Linked DNA regions of Homo sapiens: region 2 is linked to region 1. The links come from fine-mapping of genetic effects on gene expression. A gene starts in region 1. The other region holds a variant in brackets. All regions are shown on one strand. Distances are between the middles of the regions. Region 1 holds the start of SYT17 (synaptotagmin 17). Region 2 overlaps SYT17 (synaptotagmin 17).

Region 1 (5,375 bases):
TAGGCACTGGGTATTGTCCCGGCAGGTACAGCAGGGCACAAAACAGCAAAATATTATACCCTCATAGGGCTTGCATGAAAAAGTGCTTTAGAATGTTAGGATAAAGTGATACTTTTTCATAATAATCTATGACCATTTTCTGAATACAGGGAAGCATTTCCTAGACATGTGGTGGTCAAAAGAGGCCATTTATGAAACCAAAGTGAACAGAGACAAGGTCACCTCATGGCCCTGCTGAAAAACAGCCTCCCCAACTTTCTCAAAGCCCAGGTGCAAGATGAGTGTCAAGGAGCAGAGAGAAAGCAAAGAAGATGAAAGAGGGTGCCCTGACATTCCCAGGCATGCTGAGTCTTTCTGGCATTGGGTCTCCTGGGCTCACGTGTTTGACACCGATGGAAGAGAACCAATTCACACCAGAAAGAAAGAGGAAGAAAGACAACCCATGCATTCTAAACAGAGGTTGGCAAACTAAGGCTCGCAGATCAAAACCAGCCCCGCAGCCTGTTTTGCTACAGCCCTTGAGCTAAGAATAATTTGTGAGTTTTTAAAAGGTTGAAAAAAAAAAAAGATGAATGCCTCTTGACTCGTGCAAAGTATACAAAATTCAAATTTTGGTGCCTGCAAATAAAGTTTTATTGGAACACAGCCACGCCCACTCATTTACTACTGTCCATAGCAGTTTTGGTGCTATAGTCAGAGTGGAATAGTTGTGACAGAGACCATGTGAGCCTCCAAGAGAAAAAAAATAGTATCTGGCACTTTACAGGACAACAAAGTTTAACACCTTGTTCTAGAAGGAAAACCAACATCACTGGGTCATCGCCATATGAGATGCTTAACATATCTACCACAGTCCCCTCTTGAGATCCCACCTTGACCCCTAAGCAGCTATGTGGCCTTGGGCAAGTCACTTAATTTCTCTGTGCTGAAGGCGGCCATTAAGAACTCCAGGAGCCGGTAATCATGTTCATTTCTCACTAAATTGCGCACCCAGAGGGGCAGGAACTGTGCTGTTTTCATCACTGTATCCCCAGTGCCAGCACTTAGTAGGCGGTCGCCCAAGTGTTTGTTGGGCGACTACTCAATAGCCCCTGGACAACATTCAGCACACAGTGGGTGGACAGTAATGTGACCTTCATTGAACTTGAAGAGAAACTGGCGATTCCACGAAAGGGAAGCCAATTCAGGGAATCTAAGGCAGGAGATGAATGGAAGAGGCTCCGCCAGGTGACACAGCACAGAGTTCCCGGCAGGCTGAAGCGTCTGAGGACACGATGAGGGGATATGTGACCCAGAGGGGAATGGGAGGACCAGCAGCACCCCCAGCTGTGGCTGAGGGGACAAGATGTGAGCCAAGATGCACCCTGGACGTGGGAGTCTGTAAGCTTCTCTGCCCAGCTCAGAGGCGCCAGCGCCAGAAGCAAGCAGCTCAACGGGTCTCACTGCGGGTCTGCCTGCTTGACCTTGGCGCTGACCTGCGGTCACTTCCCTTCTTGCAGAGGAGAAAGGTCTTTTCACCAAGAAGCCCGGCCCACCCCTCCGCCCCCTCCCCCCAAAAAAGGCTGCTTAGAAATTATTTCAGAATTATTTCAGCCCAAGGATTCTTGGGGGACGTTTCTTCAAGGTGAAGAGGGTCCACATCTCCCAGACCCCAATGCAGCGGAGTAAAGTAACAGGCTCCCTTCTCTTCACCAGCGCGCCTCTGGCCTCTGGGTGTCCCCCACCCCTCAGCACCCAGTGCCCAGGAGAGACGACGTCCTTGTCCCTCCTGGTCGGAACAGCTGCCTCAGGCTCGCTCCGCCGGCCAATTAGCCGGAGCCGTCACCACGGCAACGGCAGCTGGCGGGCCGGGTGGCTGGCGCGCCCCGGGCCGCCCTCCCCACGGCCCCTCCCCTGGGGTGGGGTGCCAAGGAGAGGGAGGGGGCAGGGGAGAAGAAAAGTCCGCCCCACCCCCCATTCCCTCCCCAAGAGGCAAGGGCGCGCGTTGCAGAGTACACATAGGACCCTCCATCCCGGGGTTTGGGGGTCCCCAGTCTCTCCTCCCGGGGCGCACCCCTGTTGCTGCACAGGTTGCCCGCGCACGGGCACCCTTTTTCTCGAAGCAAGTTTGTGGGAGCCTAGCCGTGGGCCCTCCCTTCCGCGCGCTCCCAGCCGGAGGGGGCGCGGCACCCCCTACCCGCACCCCGGACCTTGCCCCCAGCCTCAGCCCTACCTGGATGTACGCCATTTTCGCCCGCGCGCACTCACTCCGGCCCGGGCATGGCGCCGCCACGGCCACTTTGCCCTCGCCAACAGCGGAGGGGGAAGAAAGCAAAGGGGGAAAGGAAGAAAAAGGCAGCCGGTGGCCCCAGACGTGACTGGCGTGGCTGATGAGCGGCGCCCGCCCCTCCGCCGGCCGCCCCGTCCTTGCCTTTCCCTGCGTTCCGGCTCTCGGAATCGGGGCCGCCTCCCCGGTTCGGAGATATCGGGCGCCCAGGGCCCCCGCCTCGGCCTCCCTCGCTGTCCCGTGCTCCCCACCGAGGCGCTCCCCAGGCTGGAATAAGGCCGGGGCGCCTGGGCAAGCAGCCCGGGGCAGCTGCGGGGACTGCAGCGACCCCAGCGCAGGCGGGGCCGGAGACGCCGGGGCCGGAGCGCGCAGGAGGCGGGGGAGGGGATGGGAATGGGGAAGGGGGTGGGAGGGGGCGGTACACAGGTCAGCCCATCCTGCTGGCACGGGGGCTGGCACCTACCGAAAGCAGCGCCCCCGGGGCAGCCGTGGAGCCGAGGGGACACAGTGCAGCCTGCCATGAAGTCTGCAGCAGGGAGGGTCCTTCCCATCCAGCCCTCTCCCCAAACTGGGTTGGAAAAACTTTATTCCCGCCCCACCCGACGCGCCTAGCACGGTTGCGGTGAGGCTTGCAGAGGCTGCGTGGATGGGAGCCTCAAGTTAAGGTGGGCGTAGGGCGTCCCAAACGGAGGTGCTGCGTCCAGGGCTGCAGGGGGCGCGCGGAGAGAGCGGAGCGCCCCTTTACCCTAAACCTGCCGGAGTTGCGCCCTGGACGCAACAGGTCTAGCGCGGGGCGGCCCGGCAGCGCCACCCAGCGTCGTGCCCGGCCTCGTGCGCTCCTCTGCCCACGGGCAGGCGGCCGCCAGCGAGCGTGCGCCCCGGGGCGTGTCCACCGCCGCCCTCCTGCCTGTCCTCGTGGCTGGGGCGCCCTGGACCCAGAGGCCTCCATCAAACCTCCCAGCCCAAGGCCTCTGGCTCTCCACTCAGAGATTCGAGGTGGAACATTGCCCTCCGCTGGATTTCTTATTTTATTTTATTTTATTTTATTTTATTTTATTTTATTTTATTTTATTTTATTTTATTTTATTTTTGACACAGGGTGTCACTCTGTCACCCAGGCTGGAGTGCACTGGGGTAATCTTGGCTCACTGAAACCTCCGCCTCCCAGGTTCAAGGGATTCTCGTGTCTCAGCCTCCCGAGTAGCTGGGACTACAGGCACATGCCACCACGCCCACTAATTTTTGTATTTTTGGTAGAGAAAGGGTTTCACCATGTGGGCCAGGCTGGTCTCGAACTCCTGGCCTCAAGTGATCTGCCTGCCTCGGCCTCCCAAAGTGCTGGGATTAGGGGCGTGAGCCACTGCGCCGGGCCGGTTTTCTTTTTAATATGCCCAGTCATCTCCTGTTGCCGGACACCAGCTTATCAGCATTTTAATTTTAACCTCCCAGTGCCTCTTTTTCCTCAGTAAAAACAGGAGAAAATCTCCACCCTGCCTATCCTCCAGGGCTGATTTGTGGGAATAAATGAGAAAATGAATATGGGAGTAACAAAAGATGGATATTCAGATGCATATATTTTTTGTCTAAAAATCTAGCAGACCTATACATTTTTTAGTATGATATATTTAGTTTGTAGCATATAGCACGTAACGCATATTGAGTGCTTATGATTCTGCAGGCATACACGCCTCAACACTTCACAAGCGTTATTTCATTTCAACCTGCAGTACCTTGATCACTCCTATTAGGTAGCACCTGTCCAGCCAGAGTAGGCACTCAGTAATTGTTTTTGTTGCCTTATTCACTCTGCTTCCTGAGGGAGGTGCTATGATTATCTCCAATTTATGAGGGACTGCAGCCCAGACAGGTAAAGCCTCTATGAAGGCCTGACAGCTGGTAGCCCAGGGCACTGACATTTGAACCCACAAGTCCAGCAGTGAACCCAAAGTGGCCACTCCTAACCACTTTGTGGTATTTATCCACAATCTTTCTCCAGCACTGATGGCAAGGCATGCCAGGTGGGGAGTGAGCCTCACAGAGGAGGATGCCTATTGGAACGGGTGCTCCTTGGGGGCACTTGAGGGAGTTCGAGGAATTTGCTAGGTGTTCCCATAAGTAAAAATAGTTAACCCTTTTTCACCTGAGGTCAGGAGTTCGAGATCAGCCTGGCCAACATGGCGAAACTCCGTCTCTACTAAAAATACAAAAAATAGCCGGGCATGGTGGCAGGTGCCTGTAATCCCAACTACTCAGGAGGCTGAGGCTAGGAGAATCACTTGAACCTGGGAGGCGGAGGTTGCAGTGAGCTGAGATCGTGCCACTGCACTCCAGCCTGGGTGACAGAATGAGATACCATCTCAAAAAAAAAAAGTTAACCCTTTTTGAGGTCTGTGTACCAGGCACTGTTTTCAGCCCTTTACACAAATTTTGATCTTTTAATTCTCTGATTACCATGAGGTAGGCACAAGTACTATCCCACTCTTTAGGTGAGAAAAAAAGAGGCATTAAGAGGTGAAGTTGGCCAGGCATGGTGGCTCATGCCTGTAATCCCAGCACTTTGGGAGGCCAAAGTGGGTGGATCACTTGAGGCCAGGAGTTCAAGACCAGCCTACAAAAAGTTTCTTTACAAAATACAAAAATTAGCCCGGCATTGGTGGCTCACACCTGTAGTCCCAGCTACTTGGGAGACTGAGGCTGGAGAATCGCTTGAGCCCAGGAGATTGAGGCTATAGTGAGCTGAGATCACACCACTGCACTCTAGCCTACATGACAGAGTAAGACCCCATCTCGAAAAAAAAAAAAAGAGATGAAGTCATTTGCCCAAGGCGTGTCATGCCAGGCCACTGTTAACTCCTTTAGGAATAGTACCATGTCCAGGAGGCCAAAAAAGAGACCTAGAGACAGTGAACGAGACACAGGGTTTATTGAGGGAACTTACATACAGGGACAATCCAGTGGCAGCTGGCTGGACAGGAGAACCTCTACTGTTTATATAAAAGCATGCAGTTTATGTAGCATTTTCACTTAGCACCCTCCACCTAGCAACTTCCTTTTGGCCCTTTAACCCAAAACAAAGGGCCTCGATTGTTTATATAAAAAACATGTTTAT
Region 2 (5,375 bases), 42 kb before region 1:
TAGCCTGGGAGGCACAGCAAGACCCTGTCTCTTAAGAAGAAAGAAAAGTCTATTCACTGCCTCCACTGAGTCTGTCTTCAGTCCCCTCTGGATCTGAAGAGGCCAAAGCACCAGCCACAATCCAGAGCCCAGAAAGATCCAGCTAAGATTTCCTTCCTTCTTCTTTCTCCTTAAGCCATTCTTTTTCACTGCAAAGTGGACATCCAAGCACCAAATACAAAAATCCTCCTAGGAAGTGGGTTCAGCCCTCCCAAGGAAAATGGATTGCTTGTTCTGGTAGGATCTCCAACTCTGTGAAGTCTTCCTTATCCAAATTTAGTGAGATAAGATTGGAATGTCAGAGCTGAAATAATTTAGACCAATATTCTGGTTTTCTAAAAGAAAACGGAACCATGCCATTACCTCACTTCCCCGTTTATTTCTTATTTATTTATTTATTGTGACAGGAATCTCGCTCTGTGGCTCAAGTTGGAGTGCCCTGGCACAATCTTGGCTCACTGTCGCCTCTGCCTCCTGGGTTCAAGTGATTCTTGTGCCTCAGCCTCCCGAGTAGCTGAGATTACAGGCATGAGCCCCCATGCCCAGCTAATTTTTGTATTTTTAGTAGAGATAGGGTTTTACCATGCTGGCCAGGCTGGTCTCGAACTCCTGACCTCAAGTGATCTGCCCACCTTGGCCTCCCAAAGTGCTGGGATGACATGTGTGAGCCACCATACCCGGCCTCACTTCCCTGTTTAAAACCCTCCATCTCTCAAAATAAAATTCAAAGTGCTTAGCCTGGTCAACAACAGGGTTTGTCAACCTCAGCACTATTGCCACTTTGGGCTGGAGCATTCTGTGTTGTGGGAGCTGTCCTGTGCGCTACAGGAAGTTTAGCAGCATCTCTGGCCTCTACACACTGGATGCCAGCGGCATCACCCCTCTCCCCAGTGGTAAAGTCTCAGAATGTCTCCAGACATCGTCAAATGTCCACTGAGGGCAAAAATCACCCAGTTGAGAACTAATGGTCTCTAAAATAATTTATCTACGGGATCGAAATGATTTGATCCAAATGATTTGATTCCTGCCTACCTCTGAGACTTCACTCACCAACCGCCTCTGCCTTCTTTCTATTCTTTAAAAATACAAGATCATTGGCCAGGCACGGTGGCTCACACCTGTAATCCCAGCATTTTGGGAGGCTGAGGCGGGCGGATCACGAGGTCAGGAGATCGAGACCATCCTGGCTAACACAGTGAAACCGAGTCTCTACTAAAAATACAAAAATATTAGCCGGGCTTGGTGGCGGGCGCCTGTAGTCCCAGCTACTTGGGAGGCTGAGGCAGGGGAATGCCGTGAACCCGGGAGGTGGAGCGGAGCTTGCAGTGAGCTGAGATCCCGCCACTGCACTCCAGCCTCGGCGACAGAGCGAGACTCTGTCTCAAAAAAAAAAAAAATACAAGATCGTACCTGCCCCAAGGCTTGAACTTGCTATTCCCTGGGAATCTCAACTCAACAGTCACCTCCTCATCTAAGCTTCCCATTAACACTCAGTTGAAAACACCCCTCTGCCTCCATCATTTCCCATCACACCACCTTGTCATTTCCTTCACGGTACTTGGTCCTTACCTTTTTCTCCATAAAGGCAAAGAAAGTGCCCATGTGTCCACTACTATATTCACAGCACCAGAAACAAATCCAAGATCAAGCAGTGCAGCCCCCAACACAGAGGCTGAGCTGCTGCCACACCACGGGCCGAGAGGGGTTGTCAGCACGATGTTCCACCCCCTGTCCTATCCAACCCCCACAGAATCGAAGCCAAGACAGGAGAAGGAACTGGGTGACAGGCCCACTTCTACCTCGTCCCTTGTGGAAGCGATGTCACAAATAAACAGGCCTCATTTCCTTTCTTGTAAGAGCCCGATGCGCTTAATTTGGTCGAACCACGTGGGGTGGGCTAGGGAGAACCAAAATAGACAATCTGTAAATTACTCAGATGAATCCAGCAGCCGGCTTGGGCAAATGTGGCTCAGCTCTCTCCTCTCTACCCAGACAAAAATTCTCTCTCCCGGCAGCCTTTCAACACAGTTAATTTCTAATCAATAAAAAGGAAATCAAAGAAAATCATCTGGGACAAAAGACATTTTCTGGAGATAGCAAGAGCCCAGCTCTCCTCCTGACAGGTTTGCTTTGAACTCCTTCTCTATGGTCCTTTCGCTCTCTCTCACCTAGCAAAGGGTTTCAAATGTGCGCACACAAATTTTAGTGAAGCCCAAACACAGCTGCTCTGCGCCCCCTTATGCCTTTGCTCTCACCGGTTGGATAAAGTCTATTGTCTCTTAATCTGCTGCACAAACAACATTAAAATAGAAATGGATTTTTTAAAAAGCAAACTCCAACCGCAATGCCAGTGCTTTACACATTTCATCAAATGCTTTCACTTCCTTTTCTTTCTTCTTCTTTCTTCTCTTCACTTTTTTTCCCAGTCTTTGTCAATACCTCAACCCTGTATTTGCATAGCTGCA[T/C]TGACAATACAGTCACATTCTGAAATACCCTTTAAGAAAAAAAAAGGGTATTTAAAAAAAAAAAATACCCTTTAAAAAAAAATACCCTTTTAAAAAAAAATACCCTTAGATCAGAGGGGAGAGGATAAAGAGAAGTGGGTTAAAGGGTACAAACATACAGTTAGTGAGAAGGAAAAAATTCAATGTTTGGGGCTGGGCACGGTGACTCACGCTTGTAATCCAAGCACTTCGGGAGGCCAAGGTGGCAGGATCACTTGAAGCCGGGAGTTCAGGACTCCTGCCTCAAGCAAGACTCCGTCTCAATTAAAAAATAATAATAATAAATGTTTGATAGTAGAGTAGTGTTACTATATTTAACAAAAATGTATTGTACCAGAATGATAGAAGCCCTAAATACTATGACTTTATCACTATATATTACATATGTAACAAAATTTCATGTGTACCTCATAAATTTGTACTAATAAAAATAAAATAATAAAATATAATAAAACTAAAAGAATTACACACACATTTTCCATGTGACTATCTAGACATTATAAGTGTCATTATAAATGTTCACATACAACATTCCATTAGGCTGAAATACTGTAACTTATATTAACCATTTTCCTATTGCTAGATACTTAGGGTTTTTTGTTGTTGTTGTTGTTGTTTTTGTTTTGTTTTGTTTTGTTTTGAGACAGAGTCTTGCTCTGTCTCCCAGGCTGGAGTGCAGTGGCACGATCTCAGCTCACTGCAAGTTCCGCCTCCCGGGTTCACGCCATTCTCCTACCTCAGCCTCCCGAGTAGCTGGGACTACAGGCGCCCACCACCACGCCCGGCTAATTTTTTTTTTTTTGTATTTTTTAGTAAAGACAGGGTTTCACCATGTTAGCCAGGATGGTCTCGATCTCCTGACCTTGTGATCCGCCCACCTCGGTCTCCCAAAGTGCTGGGATTACAGGCGTGAGCCACCGCGCCCAGCCGAAATGTTGACTTTCTATGTGAGTGCAATGCCCTTCCTCCATAAGCCCCCAGTGAGGCTGACAAGCTGCATTTCACACTGGATTATATTGGTCTGTTATTGTCAGGCTTTTCATTAGTCTCATCTGATGGGTATCTTGTGGGTTTAATCTGGGTTTCCCTGACTGCTAAAGAGGTGAGCACCTTGTTGTGTTATCAGCTACTTATGCTTTCTCATCTATGAAAACCCTGCTCATTTCTTTTTGATCATTGTGTATTTGTCTTTCTCTTATTAATTTCTAGAAGGGCCTTTAAGTATTATGGATACTATTATTCAGCAATTACATGTTTTTATGGGTTGAATTATTTCCCTCCCCAAAATTCATATTTAATTTCCAACCCCCAGGATCTCTGAATGTGACCTTATTTAGAAATAATGTCCTGGCAGGGTGCAGTGGCTCGCGCCTGTAATCCCATCACTTTAAGAGGCTGAGGCAGGCAGATCACTTGAGGTCAGAAGTTCGAGACCAGCCTGACCAACATGGTGAAACTCCATCTCTACTAAAAATACAAAAAATTAGGCAGGTGTGGTGGTGGGTGTCTGTAATCCCAGCTCCCTTGAACCCGAAAGGCAGAGATTGCAGTGAGCCAAGATCGTACCACTGCACTCCAGCCTGGGTGACAGCGCGAGACTCTGTCTCAAAAAAAAAAAAAAAAAAAAAAAAAAGAAGGTCCTTGTAGAAGTGATTAAATAAGATAAGGTTATACTGGAGTAGGGTAGGCCTTAATCCAATGACTGATGTCCTGATGAAAAGAGGACATTTAGACATGCACACAGGGAGAATACCACGTGAAGATGAAGGCAGAGATCTATAAGCCAATAGACACCAAATATTGCCAGCCAACCACCAGACACTGTGACAGAGGCCTGGTACAGATAATAGCTTTGCCAACACCTTCCTGACATGATTTGGCTCTTTGTCCCCACCCAAATCTCATGTGGAATTTTAATCCCCACATGTCAGGGGAGGGACCTGGTGGGAGGTGATTGGATTGTGGGGTGGATTTCCCCATGCTGTTCTCATAACAGTGAGTGAGTTCTCATGAGATCTGACAGTTTAAAAATGTGTGGCACTTCCCCCCTCACTCTCCTGCTGCCATGTAAGCCGTGCTTTGCTTCCCCTTCACCTTCCACCATGATTGTAAGTTTCCTGGGCCTCCACAGCCATGCAGAACGGTGAGTCAACGGAACCTCTTTTCTTAGTAGTGCCCAGTCTCAGGTGGTTCTTTATAGCAGTGTGAAGGACTAATACACCTCCAATAATTGCAGAGAGTAAATTTATGTTCTTCAAGCCACCAGTTTGCGGCATTTTCTTACAACAGCCCTAGAAAACTAATATATGTGTATAGCAAACGTATCCTCCCAGTCTGTGGCTTGCCTTTTAATCCTTTTTACTATGTTTCCTGATAAGCAGAAGTTCATCATTTTAATGTGGTAGGATGCATCCCTCTTTGCCTTCATTGGTTCATACTTTATTTTCTGACTTTTTAAAGAGGTGCTTTGCTATACTAAGCTCATAAAGATCTTTATTTCCTTATAAAACTTAAAGTTTGGCCATTCATCAGTTCCTGACCATCAGGATTTGATTTTGGTCTGTGTTATGAGGTAAGGCTCCATTTTCTTTCTTTCTTTCTTTTTTTTCCTGTTTTGTTACAGACGGGGTCTCACTGTGTCACCCAAGCTGGAGTGCAGTGGTGTGATCACAGCTCGCAGCCTTGAACTCCTGGCCTCGAGTGATCCTGTTGCCCTGGCCTCCCCAAGGATTACAGGTATGAGCCACTGTGCCTGGCCCCATTTTCATTTTTGAGGGAGTGGCCACCTTGTTCCCTATCTTTCTGCTCCACGAAGCTGTGAGCTCATTGAGG

The links. PIP is the estimated chance that this variant, and not a neighbour inherited with it, causes the effect.
Region 2: its variant is fine-mapped to the expression of SYT17 in whole blood (TOPMed, PIP 0.95).

The regions. Positions count from the first base shown.
Region 1 is chr16:19,165,499-19,170,873 of GRCh38, reverse strand. It overlaps SYT17 (synaptotagmin 17), which reads right to left and starts at 2,634. Exons shown (of 8, transcript NM_016524.4): 1 at 2,213-2,634. The coding sequence starts at 2,227. RefSeq lists an enhancer at 2,050-2,797 and a silencer at 2,989-3,238.
Region 2 is chr16:19,207,686-19,213,060 of GRCh38, reverse strand. The region is part of intron 5 of SYT17 (synaptotagmin 17); the gene reads right to left. Among named protein-coding and RNA genes, the nearest start is that of SYT17, 42 kb to the right of the region's middle. The variant T/C (reference allele first, on the strand shown) is at 2,505.